Regions from separate parts of the Homo sapiens genome. Here region 1 is linked to region 2. Evidence: fine-mapped expression QTL. A gene starts in region 2. The other region holds a variant in brackets. All regions are shown on one strand. Distances are from middle to middle. Region 1 overlaps RBM28 (RNA binding motif protein 28). Region 2 holds the start of RBM28 (RNA binding motif protein 28).

Region 1 (9,271 bases), 29 kb after region 2:
CCTATGCTTGAAATGTCTTTCTTATCTAAAGCCATCAGGCCTTCCTCCTTTCCTTCTTCAATAATTTCCTTCCTGAGGGCTTTTTTCAGTTGTAAGATCTGTGGACAGTACTCCATCCTCGGCAGCAACTTGTTACACGCTTAAAATACCATGTACCTCTCAATTTGTATGTATCGCAAACAGTTGTGTTTGTATTGTGTTTGTTTTTTAACATCCATACCGCTTTATAAATTTTCTTTAGGAAGTTTTGTTTATGTGCTTTTTTTTAGGTCTCTGTTGATGTCTATAAGCTAGTAGAAAGCAAGAAAATACAATTTTAATCTGTTTGATGGTCTTAGTAGGTAAATTCTAATAAGATGGACACACATAAGTGTTATTCCAGTGTGATTTTTGTGATGGTGGTATAAATGAAGATTATGTTTCAATAACCTGATTTTTTTTTTTTTTTTTTGAGACAGGGTCTCACTCTGTTGCCCAGGCTGGAGTGCAGTGGTGCCATCATGGCTCACTGTAACTTCAACCTCCCCGGGCTCAGGTGATCCTCCTGCTTCAGCCTCTTGAGTAGCTGAGGTGCCACCACACTGGCTAATTTTTTGTATTTTTTGTAGAGACAAGGTTTTGCCATGTTGCCTAGGCTGGTCTCAAACTCCTGGCCTCAAGCAATCCTCCTGTCTCGGCCTCCCAAGGTGCTAGGATTACAGGCATGAACCACCATGCCCACCCAATAGCCTGATTTCTTATTGACTCTATTAAAGCAGTTCATGTCAGGCAAGTCTTCTCATTCTGTAATTACTGATTTTTTTCTTGCTCTACTCATAGTGTAGAGTGATGCGAGACCTCAAAGGAGTTCATGGGAACATGAAGGGTCAGTCCCTGGGCTACGCCTTTGCGGAGTTCCAAGAGCACGAGCATGCCCTGAAAGCCCTCCGCCTCATCAACAACAATCCAGAAATCTTTGGGCCTCTGAAGGTAGGCCTTGTCCTCTGGGGAGACTTGTTCCCTTAGGACCACTTGCAGGAAACCAGCCTTCTCCTTTATGCCTAGTGTCCTCTGACATTTGAGGGGTGGGAAACAGTGGCAAGTGGACAAAAAAAAGGTGGGTTGGGGGAGGATGTGTGAAGGGGAAAAACTCAGCTCATTGCATGCACAGATTAAGAAGTCTAATGAATGGCATTCTGTCTCCCTCTGACAGAGACCAATAGTGGAGTTCTCTTTAGAAGATCGAAGAAAACTTAAAATGAAGGAATTAAGGATCCAGCGCAGCTTGGTACAGAAATTAAATGGTCCATATTTTTAAGGACATAAACTCTTCTATTTTGTTCAATTTGTGCTTCTGCTCTCTTAGAGTAGTTCTCCCCTCAGTTAGGTTTTTTTGCTCCTAGTTCCCTTTACTCCCAGTTCCCTAAGCCTCTCCAGGCCATCTTCTTATCTGCTGGCCCATGTCTGATAGCTCTACAGCAGAAGGGAAAGGAAGGAGAGAGGAAGCAGACCAATGTTATTTCCAGTCAGCCGTTTTTTACAGTGTTTGGTGATAGTACGTGCCAAAATTAATGGTTGAGGTTAAGGTTTCCCATTACCTGTAGATTTCAGTTATCTCTTCCATATTTTCTTTTATTAGTTGGCTCCAGAAGTGTGAAGCCTGATAGTTTTAGTACTGTTTTTAATCTGGTGTGGTATAGAAGGTGGAGCAGGGACTTTAGGAATACGTGTACTCATGCTCATACTCTGGCTCTGCCCTTTTTGCTGCATGTTCCTTGGCAGTTATTACCGCTCTGAACTTCAGTTTGTAAAATGGGGTGGACAACATCTGCCTCACATGATTGCTGAGGACTAAATGAGATAATACATGTCCATCGTCTAGCATACTGCATGGTCAGCACGCAGTCAGTACTCATTCTCTTACCCATCTTCCCCCAGGACATACAGGGCCAGATTATTCTTGACTCTGTCATTCTTAGAGCTCTCATTGATATTGCACAGCAAAGTTCCCTTGCATATACAGCAAACATTTGTAGTCTTTGTGGTATATACCAAGAGGATTACCAACAGACGAGCCATTCTGGTGGTTAATGCAGTGGCCCTAGGTTGGAAAATCTGGGATCTGGTTATTGTTCAAGGCAACTTTGTTCCCCAGATAATAGAATTGTTTATTACTGTTAGCCATTGTTTCAGAGGTGATTCTGAAGCTACCAGTTTTGTTTGTTTTTCTGTTTGAGATGGAGTCTTGCTGTGTCGCTCAGTTTGGAGTGCAGTGGCACAATCTCAGTTCACTGCAACCTCCACCTTCTGGGTTCAAGTGATTCTCTTGCCTCAGCCTCCTGAGTAGCTGGGACTACAGGTGCACACCACCATACCCGGCTAATTTTTGTATTTTTTTAGTAGAGACAGGGTTTCACCATGTTGGCCAGGCTGGTCTCGAACTCCTGACTTCAAGTGATCCACCTGCCTCAGCCTCCCAAAGTGCTGGGATTACAGGCGTGAGTCACTGAGCCCAGCCTAGTTTGTTTTTTAACATCCAAATTACTTTATTTGTTGCCTGGATTTATATTCATACTGTTCTTTCTGTGTAAAAATGCCTCTACTCACTTTGCATATGCAGATCAAATGATCTCTTTCAAGTTGCATGCCTCCACCTCTCTCAAAAGATATAAGGCCCTCTTTACTTGATTTTCATGAACTTCCTTAAGCTGTGTAGTTTTTTTTACTTTGGTTTATTTGTGAATGCATCTCTTATCTCCACCTGGCTGTGAGTCCTGAAGGGTAGACACTATTTTTTTGTATCCTGGAAACAGACTGGCACACACTAGGCATATAATAAATGTTCATTGTATCGTTGTACCTATCTAGATTTCTAAGGTGAAAGGGAAGAACAACACACACTTATCATTACATTAATTTCACTTGAATCTTCTGTTTCTTCCACTTCAGTGCAAATACTTCTATAACTTCCTTGATGCCTTCCTTCCCACAGCATCTTTTTCTTGTCGTCTTTACTTCATTTATTCCATTCCTGATGTTCTTCCTTTCTTGAAAACGATCAGTTTCTGACCTATGTCATTTTTCTTCTCTCTGAAGAGATTATTTCGCATTTCTTGCAGACAGGTCTACTGGCAACAAATTCTCTCCATTTTCTTTTGTCTGAGTAAGTCTTTTCCTTCACTTTTGAAGGATAAGTTTATCGGATACAGGATTGTAGGTTGGTGATTTTTTTTTCTTTTAAAAATTTAAATATTAAATATCTCACTTCACTCCCTTCTTGCTTACATGGTTTCTGAAGAGAAGTCTTGGAAATCTCTCTCAATCTACTCTGGTTTGGGAGGGTGCCTATTAAAAACAAAAGAGAGAGAGATTTGATGTAATCTCATCCTTGTTCCTCTATAGGTAAAATTTTTCCCCTGTCTGGCTTCTTTCAAGATTTTATCTTTGATTTTCTGCAGTTTGTCTATGATATGACTGGTTGTAAATTGTTTAGTATTTATCTTATTTGGTCTTCTCTGAGTTCCTAGATCTGTGGTTTAGTGACTGTCATTAGTTTTGAAAAATTCTCAGCCCTTATTACTTCATTATCTTTTCTGTTGCTTGCTTTCTTCTTGTATTCTCCTTCTACATAGGTTACACCTTTGATAATTGTCCCACCTACTGACTTTTGAATTTTGGGCATGCACTCTCCCTTATTTCTGTGTTATGGGAAGGGGAATGGTTATTTTGTGCCCCCCACCCAGTAACCATCTGTTACTGTGGCAGGGCTTGTGATCTACATGTATTCACTTTCCTCTAGTCTCCAATTGTGTGGGGGAAGAATTCCTCTTCTTTCATCTAGCTCACATAAAGCTCATCTTCTGCTGAGTATTTGCAGCAAACAAAGCTCATCCAGAAACCAGATGGCATTTTCTTGTTTTATGCAGCAAAAAATGAGATCCAAGCCTGCAACTGGTGAGCCTCAGAAGGGGCAACCAGAGCCTGCAAAAGACCAGCAACAGAAGGCAGCTCAACACCACACAGAGGAACAAAGCAAGGTGCCCCCAGAGCAGAAGAGAAAGGCGGGCTCTACCTCATGGACCGGGTTCCAGACCAAGGCTGAAGTGGAGCAGGTGGAGCTGCCTGATGGAAAGAAGAGAAGAAAGGTCCTGGCGCTCCCCTCACACCGAGGCCCCAAAATCAGGTGAGATGCAGGAGGGCAGAAGCACAGAACAGTGGGTGGGTTCTAAGCGGGTTTGTTTTTGCTGAGTTATTTTCTCTTTGTGGCATTTGTTTGGTTGAAAAGGATGTTTGGTGCTATGTATTCCCACACATGGGGTTAACACGCGAGTCTTCAACACCATCAGAGATGTCACTCTTAGATCAATGGCAGAGGGGCCTCCTAGGGCAGGCTTTTGTGCCCCTTTTCTCCTCTTTTGAAGAGCTTCCTCTTGTCCAGATGGCCATCTCTGCCAGCTGAGACCACATACTTGAGGTTCAGTTGTAGTTTCTGTTTGGGACAGCAGATTAGTGCTCTACAAAAGTAAATCTTTACAAAATATTTGTTAAATAAATGAAGGTTTTTGAGATATCCATGGGGTTTTATTTATTTATTTATTTTATTTTTAGAGACAGTGTATTATTCAGTTCTTCCACTGCTATAAAGAAATACCTGAGACTGGGTAATTTATAAAGAAAAGAGGCTTGGCTGGGCGCGGTGGCTCACGCCTGTAATCCCAGCACTTTGGGAGGCCGAGGCGGGTGGATCACGAGGTCAGGAGATCGAGACCATCCTGGTTAACATGCTGAAACCCCGTCTCTACTAAAAATACAAAAAATTAGCTGGGTGCGGTGG[C/T]GGGCGCCTGTAGTCCCAGCTACTGGGGAGGCTGAGGCAGGAGAATGGCGTGAACCCGGGAGGCGGAGCTTGCAGTGAGCCGAGATCACGCCACTGCACTCTGGCCTGGGCGAAAGAGCGAGACTCCGTCTCAAAAAAAAAAAAGAAAAGAAAAGAGGCTTAATTGGCTCATGGTTCCACAGGCTGTACAGGAAGCATGACAGCAGCTGCTCATCTTCTAGGGAGGCCTCAGGAAACTTAATCATAGTGGAAGGTGAAGTGGGAGCTGGCACATCACATGGCCAGGAGCAGGGGGGAGTGTTTTAAACAACCAGATCTTGTGGTAACTCATTCACCGTCACGAGAACAGCACTGAGGGGATGGCGCTAAACCATTCATGAAGGAGTCATCCCCATGATCCAGTCACCTCCCACCAGGCCCAGCCTTCAACACTGGGGATTACAATTCAACGTGAGATTTGAGCAAGGACACAGATCCAAACCATGTCACAGGGTCTTGCTCTGTTGCCCAGGCTAGAGTGCAGTGGCATGATCATAGCGCACTGTAACCTCAACTCCTGGACTCAATCCACCTTCCTCAGCCTCCTGAGTAGCTGGGACTTTTTAATTTCGTTGTAGTAGAGACGGGGGATTGCTATGTTGCATAGGCTGGTCTCAAACTCCTGGCATCAAGCAGTCCTAAGTATACAAATGTTGAGCTTTCAGAGGGTCTGTTGCAGTATCCCTTTTTAGAATGACTTCACTTATCATGGGCTTGGGAAGGGCCAGTGTACAAAGAGAACCTAGGGGTGTCAAATTAGAAGAAGGACTCAAGGTGACACTCAGCCATGTTATTTCAGGTTGCGGGACAAAGGCAAAGTGAAGCCCGTCCATCCCAAAAAGCCAAAGCCACAGATAAACCAGTGGAAGCAGGAGAAGCAGCAATTATCGTCCGAGCAGGTGAGTTCTGCAGGACATACAGCTTTGGTATGGCATGGTTCTGCCAGGTCGTAGCCATGTTTGTACCTTGGTTAGTTGAGCAAAAAAGAAAAAAAGAAAGACTTCTGTGTAGGACGGTAGCTTTTTAGAGAATGTTGAGCTATACAATCTTAAAAGTGGAGAGAAAAAAGTAAAATGAACCTCCACGTATCTGTTCCTGTGTTTCAGCAGTCTCCTTGTTTTACATATTCCCCATAACATGCTTTCCCCACTAGAGTATATTAAAGCAAAGCCCATTTCACATGTAAATGCGTCTCATATGAAAATGAAACATATTGCTCAGAAAAACCTCAGAGTGCATCTCTAACTGATCAGGCCTTAAACACACACACCTTATGCCATTATAATATCTAATGAAACTAATAAGCCCTTTATCATCTACTACACAAATGATATATTAAATCCATATTAAAATTTGCCAAATTGCCTGAAAAAAATTTTTTTATACTTGGTTAGTATGAGTCGGGATCCAAAGTCCCACATTATACTTGGGTTTTTAATTTCTTAAATCATTTTTTTCTTCTCTAATATCCATTCTCCCTTACCACCCTTTTTTCCATGCTATTCATTTATTGGAGAAACCAGGTCATTTGTGTTACATTTTTAATTTAGCCATTTGCTTCTTTGTGGTGTCATTTAACTTGTCTCTGTGACACCCCCATATTGCCTGTCATCTGGTAGTTAGTTCGGTCTGGTAGCTTGATCAAGTTCAGTTTTCTTTTTTTAAAAATTTTTTTGAGGTGGAGTTTTGCTCTTGTTGCCTAGGCTGGAGTGCAATGGCGCAATCTCGGCTCACTGCAACCTCCGCCTCCAGGAGTAGCCTCCCGAGTAGCTGGAATTACAGGCATGCGCCACCATGCCCAGCTAATTTTGTATTTTAGTAGAGACGGGGTTTCACCATGTTGACCAGGCTGGCCTTGAACTCTTGACCTCAGGTGATTCGCCTGCCTCGGCCTCCCAAAGTGCTGGGATTACAGGTGTGAGCCACCGTGCTTGGCCTCAAGTTCAGTTTTCTTGAAGAGAGTATTTCATAGGTGGTGTGTGTGTTTCCTTATATCGCCTGAGGCACATACTACCTGGTTGCCCATTTTTAGTGATTCTGGGATTGATCAGTAGATTTGAGGATTATCTGCCTTATCCCTCCATTGATGAAGTTCCCAATTAGCCTTTCATGTAATGGCCTTAGCAGTTATTGATGAGTGTTACCAGATCCATTATTTCATTATGGGTTACAGAATGCTGATTATTTAAACTTCTATCCTTTTGCATTTTTAATTAGAACCCTAGAAAGAAAAATCTTCCTTTGTCAATTATTTGCTTACCACAAAATATCATTTATGTAGGAAAGACAGGATAAATGCTTGATTTTTTTTTTCTCTCTCTCTGTTAGTTTTCAGAGTAATGAGCTGTTGCCATACTGGCTCATTTTTTAGTATTATGAAATCCTGAGTTTTCATATGCTTGATGTGTTTCAAATACTGTCATTATTCTTACTCTGTGTAAGGCTGGCAGAAGCCCCTGCAGGTTGGCTTCTGAGTCTTTCTGATGTGGCGTATTTGTCTGGTAGTATCCTTGCTTTCTAGTGCAGGATGTCCCAGGCTCAGCTCAGGTACCTCTTCCCCAGTCCTGACATTAGCCATTTTCCCAAGGAGCCTTAGTTCCTTTTAGTAGAAAACGGTGGTCCTACATTCTTGAACACTTGAAGTCAAGCTTGCTTCTCCCCTTCCCTAGTCTCTTTCCTTTAAGGGTAAAAGCAGCATTAGCTTCCCATCCTACTCAAGAAATCTGTGTCTGGGAAGTTTCTGACGTATACCGTACTATAGTATAGAGATCTCTGAAATCCCATGAGCAGTGTTCTTGGGGAGGGAACAGGCAAGCAAGAATGGCCGGACTCTGTGCTGACTCATCTGCTTTGAGGCTAAAGTGAGCCTTTGGGAGCTAGAGTAAGAGAGGCCCCTGAGTCCCCAGCAGACAGGGAGGTTAGTCAGGCCCTGCTCCCTGTGCACTCACTCTTGGTCTAATTTCTTACCAGTGGATGATTCTGTTTGAGCCTTTCTCTCTAAGAGTCTCTCTCTAGAAACCTACCCCTTTCTGGTAGATATGATCTCTGTCCCACTTACTTTCTCTCTTGGGTGGCCTGAGGGTAAGGTGATATATAGTCTTTGAAATTGATTATATTATGTTTCTAATCCTTTCATTTGTAGGTATCTAGGAAAAAAGCTAAGGGAAATAAGACGGAAACCCGCTTCAACCAGCTGGTCGAACAATATAAGCAGAAATTATTGGGACCTTCTAAAGGAGCACCTCTTGCAAAGAGGAGCAAATGGTTTGATAGTTGATGATGGCAGCAGGCTGGGTAAGAAGCTGGGTTGTGTACTTTCTGGTGACACTCCTGGGCTCCTCCCCATCCCCCGTGTCTCTCACTGAGGGAAAGAAAATCCCCAAGGGCACTGCCACTGTGCTCGGAGGTGCCCTGGACTGTGTACATCTGAACTTTGGTCCATCCTTTGATGTGTGGTTCGTTAGCCACAAAGAGAAATATCTGAAAGTCAACATGATGCTTCTTGCATATTATCCAGATTATTGTATGAAGTTGTGTCTATAATTATTACCAATTTTTATTCTTTATTTCTCAAATGGAAACACCTGAAAAAGCATTCTGGAGTGCTGAATTTTTAAGATGTATATTTTGTTAAGCATATTCTCTAAATGAGATATTGTGTGGCTTTTTAGTAACAACGTCATTTCTAATATGTGTGACTCCTTTATTATGTATGAACATTCTTTGACATTCCTAATTCAGCTCTGTAGTCTTACACACTGCAGGAACTGTCTAAGCGAGAGCAGAGAGAAATGCTTTCTAACCTAATCGCTGCAGGCGGAGACACTTGGAAAAGAATGGGGGGAGGTGGGGCCTGACAGAGAGCAGCACTTATGTGTTTGTCAGATGAGGGGATTTCCAGTTGAATTGGCCTGCAGTGGCCTAAAGACACTAGCCTGGTTAGCGATGACCTGCATTTCTCTCATAGAGCACCTCCCTTTTCATCGTATCCACTAGCTCTCTAAGTCCTCCTTAATGAGGACACTTGATCCTCATTAAGTCTGCCCCTTAAGATGGCTTCACACCTACTGAAAAACTCCAGGGGTTTGACATCTCACTTTGATTGAAATCTTGTCTTCCTATAACATTTGATTCCCTGGGCTCTTCAGCCCTATCACCTCTGCTTGTCTTTATCCACTCTCTTCTTCATTCACTTTTGGCTACACAGGCCTTCCTTCCATCTCTTGACTCTTGACCACCTCAGAGCCTTTGTATCCGTTCCCTTTGCCTGGAGAGTTTTTCCCTTGCATCTTTTACTTGTCACTCAGATCTCCACTAGTTGTCGCCTCCTCCTGGAGCTCTTCCCAGACTATCTAAAGTAGGGCTTTTCTTCCCCTCCCCTCTATCTTGCCCCCTTACTGAAATCTGCTTCCCTGTTTC
Region 2 (9,271 bases):
GGAGTGGAGCTAGAGGGATGGGATCTGGAAGAGGCTGGCTGAGAACAGCCCAGGCCTCTCTTACTTCCTTTCCTGGCTCCTGCACAGTGATGGATGAGGAGGAGGCCAGCAGTTTATTTCCCCTGGAAGCCACATTGCTGGTGTGATGCAGGGTAGCACAGCACCTGCTATTTAATAAAGATTGCTGCATGTGTCTTGGGTAGATGGATGAGCAAATATTCCTGAGGAAAGAACCATTGCCTGCCCTGATATAAATGGATTGGAGGGGATTGGGCTGAGAGACAGATCGGGGAACCAGGTCTGAACCGTGGGGAGGGTAGAAAGGGTCAGCTGCACTGTTGTCCTCCCAGAAGGGCACAGAACCCTGCACTGTGGGTGGCTGCTGCCCCCTGATGGGCATAGAGACACAGTTAGATTTGTCCTAAATTAAGGAAGATTTGGATCAGAGCTATTTAAAACTTAGCATTTGTGGAGGGTCTCACAAAGGAATATTGGAACAATCTTCTCAGGATTGTTTTCCTTGTACAGACTGCAGCCAGGACTAGGAAGGCTTCCCCTTAGCTGGGGTTCTGAAGCTCACAATTTAATCTTTGGGGGTGGAATTTTAATTCCTAAGGTGATAGGAGTGGGCAGGAGGGAAGGAGAAGGAAGAGGAGGATGTGGAGTCCCAAACCAACTTTGTTACATGATCCATCCCATTGCCTTTATCTGTTTGTTTCTCTTTATCCTGGATAGGATTAACATAGCAACCTTAAAAATCTGTTTTGTATTTCAAAGCTTCCTTTCCTGAGTAATATTTTTAAATTTATTTTTAAATTTTTATTGTTATTGTTTTGAGATGGGGTCTCACTCTGTCACCCAGAGTGCAGTGCAGTGGCACGATAGCTCACTGCAACCTCCGCCTCCCCAGGTCAAGCGATCCTCCCACCTCAGCCTCAGAGTAGCTGAGACCACAGGTGCATGCCACCACAGCCCAGCTAATATTTTGTACTTTCGGTAGAGATGGAGTTTCATCATGTTTCTGAGGCTGGTCTCAAACTCCCAACCTCAGGTGATCCGCCCGCCTTGGCCTCCCAAAGTGCTGGGATTACAGGCATGAGCCACCACACCGGGCCTACAAGGCATTTTTTTTTTTTTCTGTCTGACTTTCTGGAGGGCCAAAGAATGATAACATCTGCTTATTGTGAGAGGGTTCTGAGAAAGTTAGCCAAACCTTTAGCAGAAAAATACCTAGGGGAAACCTTCAACAGAGAGGGCCCTTCTCCATCACAGTGCTCTTGCTCACTCCTCTCTCAAACAAGGGCAATTTTTCAAGAGTGTTAATGGGAAACCATTAGGCATCCACCTTAAGGTCCTATTTTGGCTCCTTCTGACTTAGTTTTGTTTCCTAATCTTAAAAAATCTTTAAGGGGCTCACATTTTTCTTCAATTATATATATATATATATATATATATATATATATATATATATATATATATAGAGAGAGAGAGAGAGAGAGAGAGAGAGAGAGAGAGAGAGAGAGAGAGAGAGAGACTGCATTGACATGCTTAAATTCCAAAGACCTTAAGTTCTTTAGAGATGGACTAAGTGGCTGGTATCATTGCTTACAAATGTGTTTTGAACTTGATGGAGCTAATGTTGAAAAATAAAGTTTAGGCTGGGTATGGTGGCTCATGCCTGTTATCCCAGCACTTTGGGAGGCCGATGACGGCTGATCACTTGAGGTCAGGAGTTCAAGACCAGCCTGGCCAAGTTGGTGAAACTCTGTCTTTACTGAAAATACAAAAATTAGCCAGGCATGGTGGTGGGTGCCTGTAATCTCATCTACTCAGGAGGCTGAGGCAGGAGAATTGCTTGAACCTAGGAGGTGTAGGTTGCAGTGAACCGAGATCGCACCACTGCATTCCAGCCTGGGTGACAGAGCGAGACTCTGCTCAGAAAAAAAGAAAAATAAACTTGTATTTTATTTTCAGAAGTCTCGAACTCCTGAGTTCCAGTGATCTACCCATCTTGATCTCCCAAAGTGAGTTATATATTTTTTTGAGATGGAGTCTTCCTTTGTTGCCCAGGCTGGAGTGCAGTGGTGCAATCTCGGCTCACTGCAACCTCTGCCTCCTGAGTTCAAGCGATTCTCCTGCCTCAGCCTCCCGAGTAGCTGGGATTACAGGCATGTGCCACCATGCCCGGCTACTTTTTGTATTTTTAGTAGAGACGGGGTTTCACCATGTTGGCCAGGCTGGTCTCGAACCCTTGATCTGGTGATCCACCCACCTCGGCCTCCCAAAGTGCTGGGATCACGGCCGCTCCTGGCCGTGAGTTGTATTTTTAAAAAATAATCGTGAAGTTTTATTTTAAGCATAGATTACTTACTTCGAACTAGAGCTCCATAAATGTGATGTTTAGCGTCCCCCTAATCTCCACTCCCATCACTATCAACCAGTCGTCTAGCCATCCAAAATGTATTGAAAGTGAATGGGGCTTGAGGAGATCATGAAACTTAATTTTCACCATAGTGCCTTATAAAAGGTACTAAAACTGTAAAGTTTTTGAGTTTTCTATCTGCCATGTTACTATCATTTAAAAGTAATGATTTGGCTGGGCTCAGTGGCTCACGCCTATAATCCCAACACTTTGGGAGGCCGTAGTGGGAGGATTGGTTTATCCCAGGAGTTCAAGACTAGCCTGGGCAACACAGGGAGAACTGTCTGTACAAAAAAATAAATAAATTGGCCAGGCATGGTGGTACACACTTGTGGTCCTAGCTTCTCAGGAGGCTGAGGTGGCAGTATTGCTTGAGCCCAGGAGATCAAGGCTGCAGTGAGCCATGATGGTGCCACTGCACCCCAAGTTGGGTGACAGAGCAAGAGTCTGCTAAAAAAAAAATTATTTAAAAAATGGCCTTGGGTACTTTTTTTTGAGCTAGTTGTTCTGCAAGGTGTAGCTCTCTTGCACCTATTCAGGTCCTGAGCCCAGTGGCATGGCAAACACTCTCTGTGTTCCAGAACCAGGAGCACCCAGATTTCCTAGCCAATTAAGAGCTCTCAGCTTTGGGTCTGTCTGATGAGCTGACTTGAGACAAAGATCTTCTGTTTCTAGGAGGACATGGGTTCTAGGTCTCTGTGTATAAGTTGGATGTTATGTTTGCTTTGAGTGTGTTTGATGTGGTCCTGCAGTGTGTGTGCTGTGATTTATTTGTAAGAATTTTTGGACTAATAGTCTTCCCAGCCAGGTGTGGTGGTTCACACCTATAATCCTAGCACTTTAGGAGGCTAAGGGGGGCTAATTGAGCTCAGGAGTTTGAGACCAGCCTGGGCAACATGGTGAAACCCTGTCTCTGCAAAAAATACAAAAATTAGCCGGGTGTGGTGGTGCACCTGTAGTTCCAGCTACTCAGGAGGCTGAGGCAGGAGGACTGCTTGAACCTGGGAGGTCGAGGCTGCAGTAAGCCGAGATCGTGCCAGTGCACTCCGGCCTGGTTGATAAAGTGAGGCCCTGTCAAAAAAAAAAATCTGTTTCCACCATTAGACTGTAATCTCTATGAGGGCAGGGACCCTGTCATTTCTTTGCTCACCAGTTTTATCCCTAATGCTTGGCTCATAGTTAGAGCTCAGTATATATTTATTGAAATAATAATTGTGTACTATCTGTGTCTATGTGTATTTTAGTAGCTACAATTTGTTTGTGAGGCTGAGGTGACAGACAGCTGGTGTTCTCCGAAAATGAGAATCGTCCGAATGATGTATATGATATATCTATGTCTACGTGTTAGTGTTCCGGTTGTGTTTTATGCACGTAATCTGGGAATTTGTGGAGGCACTTCAGAAAATATCAAACACCCACAGTATATCAGATCCTGAGTTACGCCCGGGGCAAAAACGACTTCTTCTGCCTGTCCTGCTAACTTTGGGGAGGATCTGGAGGTGAGATTTTTAAACAGGGTAGAAATTATTTATTTTTATTTTGTATATTAAGAAAAAAAATTACTTTTTGGAGGCCTTCCGGCAAAAACCAGAAAGCCTGCTAGGCAAATTCTAAAAAAGCTGTAACACTAGGGTAGAAATTATTGATGCCAAGTTTACACAAAAGTGGCGAGGGCGATGCTAGGGCAGGGGGCGGAGCCCCGCTCCAGAAGCTACGCCCCGGGGCGCCATTATTTTTTCATTCCGGAACCTTTTATCCCCCTCCCGACCATGTTTTCCTCCGGTCTCTTTTGGGCAACGAGCACTTCCGGAATCTCTCGGCGTGTGAGCTTGGTTGTCCTACCAAAGCCAGCGTTTCGGCTCGCGTGCGCCGGCCTAGTTTGCTCGCGTCCTCACGCGCTTTGGGTTTCCCGGTCTCATGGCCGGCCTGACCTTATTTGTGGGCCGCCTCCCGCCCTCGGCCCGCAGTGAGCAGCTGGAGGAACTGTTCAGTCAGGTGGGGCCGGTGAAGCAGTGCTTCGTGGTGACTGAAAAAGGTAGGGGCGGGGCGGTCGAGGATAGGGCTGGGGTTTCCTGCGATCGAGGGCACCTTCCCAAACTTCAGGGAGCCGTATCATTCTTTACCCTCCCCGAAGAGAAGGGACAGGGAACTGAGTTTCTTTTCCAAACTGATTCTGCTTTAGATGCGTTCATAGGAGTCAGTTTATGAAGGGCAAAGCATTCCCTTACGTTTCTATAGCGCTTTCTGTTGATTATGCGCGCTAAAAATGAAAATAGTTAACTAGAGCATCAGTAAGACTTATTGAGAGTCACCTGATTGGCAGGTACAGTGATCAGTTTGATACAGGTTATCTCATTTAATTTTCTCAGCAATCTTACCGGATGGAGAGTCTTAATGTCATTTTACAGACAGGAATCCGGGATTTAGGGGAATTTAGTAACTTTAAGTTTGTACGGCTGTTAAGTAGTGGACCCCCGATTTGATCCTCAGACCTGGACATCTTAGCCAGGATGCTATCCACTTGTTCATTCATTTATTCAGCAAATACTTAATACCTACTGTGTGCCAGGAAGTGTTGTAGGTCCTGGGGATGCAGCAGTGCACAACACCAAACCAAAAAAATCTTTGATTTTATGTCTTCAAGGTGGGGAAGAGAGCCAATAAACGAGCCAATAAACAAGCCAACCGTGAAAATGATGTCAAATGCTAAGGAGAAAAATAAGCCAGGGAAAGGGGTTAGGAAGTCTATGTGCATGTGTATAGTGGGGAGAGGGGGTGAAGAGTGGCAATATAGATAGGGTGGCCAGAGAAGGACGGACTGAGGTGAGAGAGTGAACACATGCCTCTCCGGAGGAAGAACAATTCAGGAAGAGAAAACAGCAAGCTCAAAGGTACTGAAACAGAGGTGTTTTTGGTATATTGGAGGAGTAGTAAGGAGGACAGGGTGACTGGATTGAAGTGAGTAAAGGGAAGAGAATTAGGAGATGAGATCTAGAGTAGCAGATCATGTAAGATTTTTTTTTTTTTTTAAAGACTGCGTCTTGCTCTGTCGCCCAGGCGGGAGTGCAGTGCCACGATCTCCGCTCACTGCAACCTCTGCCTCCTGGTTCAACCCATTCTCCTGCCTCAGCCTCCCAAGTAGCTGGGATTACAGGCGAGTGTCACTACACCTGGCTAATTTTTGTATTTTTAGTAGAGACGGGGTTTCGCTATGTTGGCCAGGGTTGTCTGGAACTCGAGACCTCAGGTGATCCGCCCGCCTCATGTAGGATGTTATAGACCATTGCAAGGACTTTGGCTTTTACTCAGAGATAGGAAGCCACTGATTTTAAGCAGAGAGCAGTAAGTGTGATCTGGCATTCGTTTTGAAAGATTCTCTCTCTGGCTGGTGTGTTGCCAATAGACTGTTGGAGAATAGGACAAAAGCTTATGTACTTAAAATAGGGACCGAAAGTCCTGTACAGTAATGTTTATTAAACTGCAGATTATTACCTATTAGTGGGTCTTGAGTGGGTCATGACTAGAGTTTGTTTTGTTGTGTTTTAGAAACAGGGTCTTGCTCTGTCAACCCTGTTGACAGTTGGAGTGCAGTGGTGCGATCACAGCTCAATGTAACCTTAAACTCCTGGGCTCAAGCAATCCTCCTACTTCAGCCTCCCAAGTAGCTATGACTACAGACGTGCTTCACCATGCCTGGCCAATTTTTGAATATTTTTTGTAGAGACAGGGTCTCACTACGTTGTCCAGGCTGGTTTCAAATGATCCTCCTGCCTTGGCCTCCCAAAGCACTGGGATTACAGGCATGTGCCACCACGCCTGGCCTAGAGTTCTTAAAAAATTAAATAGTATAGGAGTACGTCCATATATGGTAAAGGATAAGTATTTGTAAAACTTTTAAGTTTTAAATAAAGAATATATGTATGTACTGGGTTCCAGTGTAAGTAGCATTCCGTACCCAGGTGGTTGTATTCCAGGGAAGAATAGGCCATTGAATGGGAGTTCTCCTTTGAGTCCTCAGAATATAGGCTACATGCAATCTTACCTTACACCTTGTGTACTTGGTCTAAATCCTTAAAAATCTCTTACTTCCTTTTAAAAAACTATGCACTTTCCTATCCAGACAGCTGATATGTACTGGAAAGAGTGCTGCACTCAGTGAAACGGGAGGGAGGGTATGTGGAATGAAGTCTTCCTCAATAGCAGTGCATGTCACTTCACCTCTTTAAGATGGGAATAATTTCACAGGGTTGTCAGGGACTCTAAATGTATGTGAGCATGCTTTATGCAGACATGTAAAATGTGTGGTATTTACTGTATGTCCTTTCATTTGGGTGTCAAACTCTTTTACATTTCAGCTGCTTTACTTTTGGTTGTACTGATCATGAAGGGCTATGAATTTTCTTGTGCTCATTTTCTGAAAGGTGAGTGGGCAGCTTTTATGATAAGGAGTTCAAGAGAAGAGAAAAATTGATGTTATGTTGCTTTAACCAGTTTATGTAGATCAGTGTCCTGTGTCAAAGGGCTTATACCCTGAAGGAGATTCAAATGCAGTGGAAAGAGAAGCAGAGCATATGAACTATGTGTCCTTTTCAGGTAAAGGCAGACTTCTTGATCTGTCCTTTTCCTTTTTGATGCAATAAATTATTTAAAATTTTACTATACAAAATGTTAAACCAAAAAGGGCAAAGGTGGGTTACAGTTGATATTTGTAGTTTTCATCTCCTTGGTCCTAATATTATTCTTTGTGGAGTCCTATGGAAGAACATGGGGGCTGGTGAGGAGGAGTTAATTCAGCTACTAACACCCTGTGTGACATTAACCAATTCACTTACTGTCTTCCATCTCAAATTACTTACTTGGAAAGAAGGGGTGATAATATTTGCTTTACCTATTTTGAGGTGTTCTAAAGATAAAATGAGACAAGAATGCACAGCTGCTTTGGAAAGGTTTAATTTGATATCGACAGCTAAGGCGTTGGTAATAGTGGTCATAACATCTGCAGTCTCTCTGAGCAGTATTTATTGTTTGAGGTTCTTTTGTCTGGGCCTCAGGCATTTATTGCTGATCTATTTTGAGGAGTAACTGCATTATTGTGTTCTGATTTTTGAAGCTACCATACTGTCTTAATTCATTTTCTGTTGCTTATAAGAGAATACCTGAAACTAGGTACTTTGTAAAGAAAAATTTATTTCTTAAGTTCTGGAGGCTGAGAAGTCCAAAGTTTAGTGGCTGTATCTGGTGAGAGCCTTCTTGTTGGTGGGGACTCTGCAAAATGCCCAGACAGTGCAGGGTGTCATGGCGAGGGGGCTGAGCATGCTAATGTGCTTGCTCAGGTCTCTCTTCCTCTTCTTATAAAGCCCCCAGCTCCACTCTCATGATAGCCCATTAATCTATTAACCCATTAATCCATAAATTGATTAATCCATTCCTGAAGACAGAGTCCTCTGATCCAGTCACCTCTTAAAGACTCCACCTTTCAATACTGCTACATTGGGGATTAAGTTTCCAACACATGAAATTTGGGGGACACATTCAAACCATAGCATATACTTACCTTTCCTGCCTTCTTTGGTGATGTTTTGTTCTTTTTGATGTTGAGTTCTTTGAGGGCCTCATATGTCATGGATTCTCTGTTTTCTTGGGATTATCAAGAAAGGGGGAAGAAGGGGAGCTAACAGCAAAGACACTAAATTAAAAGAGGAGGAAGGCTAACAGTTTCTAAGCAAAGTGGGGAGGGAACCACTGATACCACCCTTGTTTCTCGCCCTCCTGAGACTTTTGGCAAACTGATAGCAAGATGGGTTGGCAGTATATCCTCTAGCTTAGGCTTTGAGGATTTACTCATTTAGTGCTCTTGGCTTATGATTCTCTCTCCTTTTCACACTGCCCCTCCACTCCCTCCCCACTCCATTATTCCAGGGAGTAAGGCATGTCGAGGCTTTGGCTATGTCACTTTTTCAATGCTGGAAGATGTTCAGAGGGCCCTCAAGGAGATTACCACCTTTGAAGGTTGCAAGATCAACGTGACTGTTGCCAAGAAAAAACTGAGGAACAAGACAAAGGAAAAGGGGAAAAATGGTGAGTTTCTAGTAATTGAAGGAAGTTTTTCTCCCAGGGTGAGGAGGAGCACTATGAAAATGAAAGAGGGAGGCATGGAGGTAGCTTCTAGAACTTAAAGCTTTTTGCATTTCTTTTTGATCTCCAAAATCATCCAGTGTATTGTGATACTCATTTTAGTTCTTTGGAAAAATCTGGTATTCCTTGGTATTATTGCCACACTTAACCCTGTGGTAAATGCCATCTGTCGCCAGTAGCTTTTTTTTCTGTGATGTTCTGGCGTAGAAGTGGGTGATTTTCGAGTACTTATTCCATTACCTCTTATTTTTTAGAAAACTCAGAGTGCCCAAAGAAGGAGCCGAAGGCTAAAAAAGCCAAAGTGGCAGATAAGAAAGCCAGATTAATTATTCGGAACCTGAGCTTTAAGGTAAGTGAGAGAGAAAATGAACATTGCATGTTTTGAAGGCTTTTAGAGCCAAGATGTGATCATTAGTAGAACTCCTCACCAAGATGGTATAATTGGGCTTAATTCCTTCTGGGAATCAACCTTACCCCTGTTGAATTCAGAAAGTGGGCCTGTGTAATAAGGGCACTAAGTGTGAAGCTGCTTTCCTTTTTGGGGAAACTACTACTGAGAAAGAAAAGGTAGAAAAAGTTCTCAGACGTCTGTGTTTTTGCCTCTTAGGTACAAAGTAAAATGTCTTCTATTTAGAAACATTTGATGTCCTAGTATCAAAAATAAAAAAAAGTAAACATTCATGTTTTTCATAATTAATGAATTTAGTAGTTGAT

What was found. PIP is the estimated chance that this variant, and not a neighbour inherited with it, causes the effect.
Region 1: its variant is the best candidate, but not a certain one, in a credible set for the expression of RBM28 in whole blood (INTERVAL, PIP 0.64).

The regions. Positions count from the first base shown.
Region 1 is chr7:128,309,655-128,318,925 of GRCh38, reverse strand. It overlaps RBM28 (RNA binding motif protein 28), which reads left to right. Exons shown (of 19, transcript NM_018077.3): 15 at 820-969; 16 at 1,193-1,267; 17 at 3,906-4,162; 18 at 5,652-5,751; 19 at 7,995-9,271. The coding sequence ends at 8,129. Among named protein-coding and RNA genes, the nearest start is that of RBM28, 30 kb to the left of the region's middle. The variant C/T (reference allele first, on the strand shown) is at 4,814.
Region 2 is chr7:128,338,862-128,348,132 of GRCh38, reverse strand. It overlaps RBM28 (RNA binding motif protein 28), which reads left to right and starts at 4,225. Exons shown (of 19, transcript NM_018077.3): 1 at 4,225-4,457; 2 at 8,342-8,500; 3 at 8,812-8,906. The coding sequence starts at 4,340. It also overlaps the pseudogene RNU7-27P. RefSeq lists enhancers at 309-388, 4,085-4,284.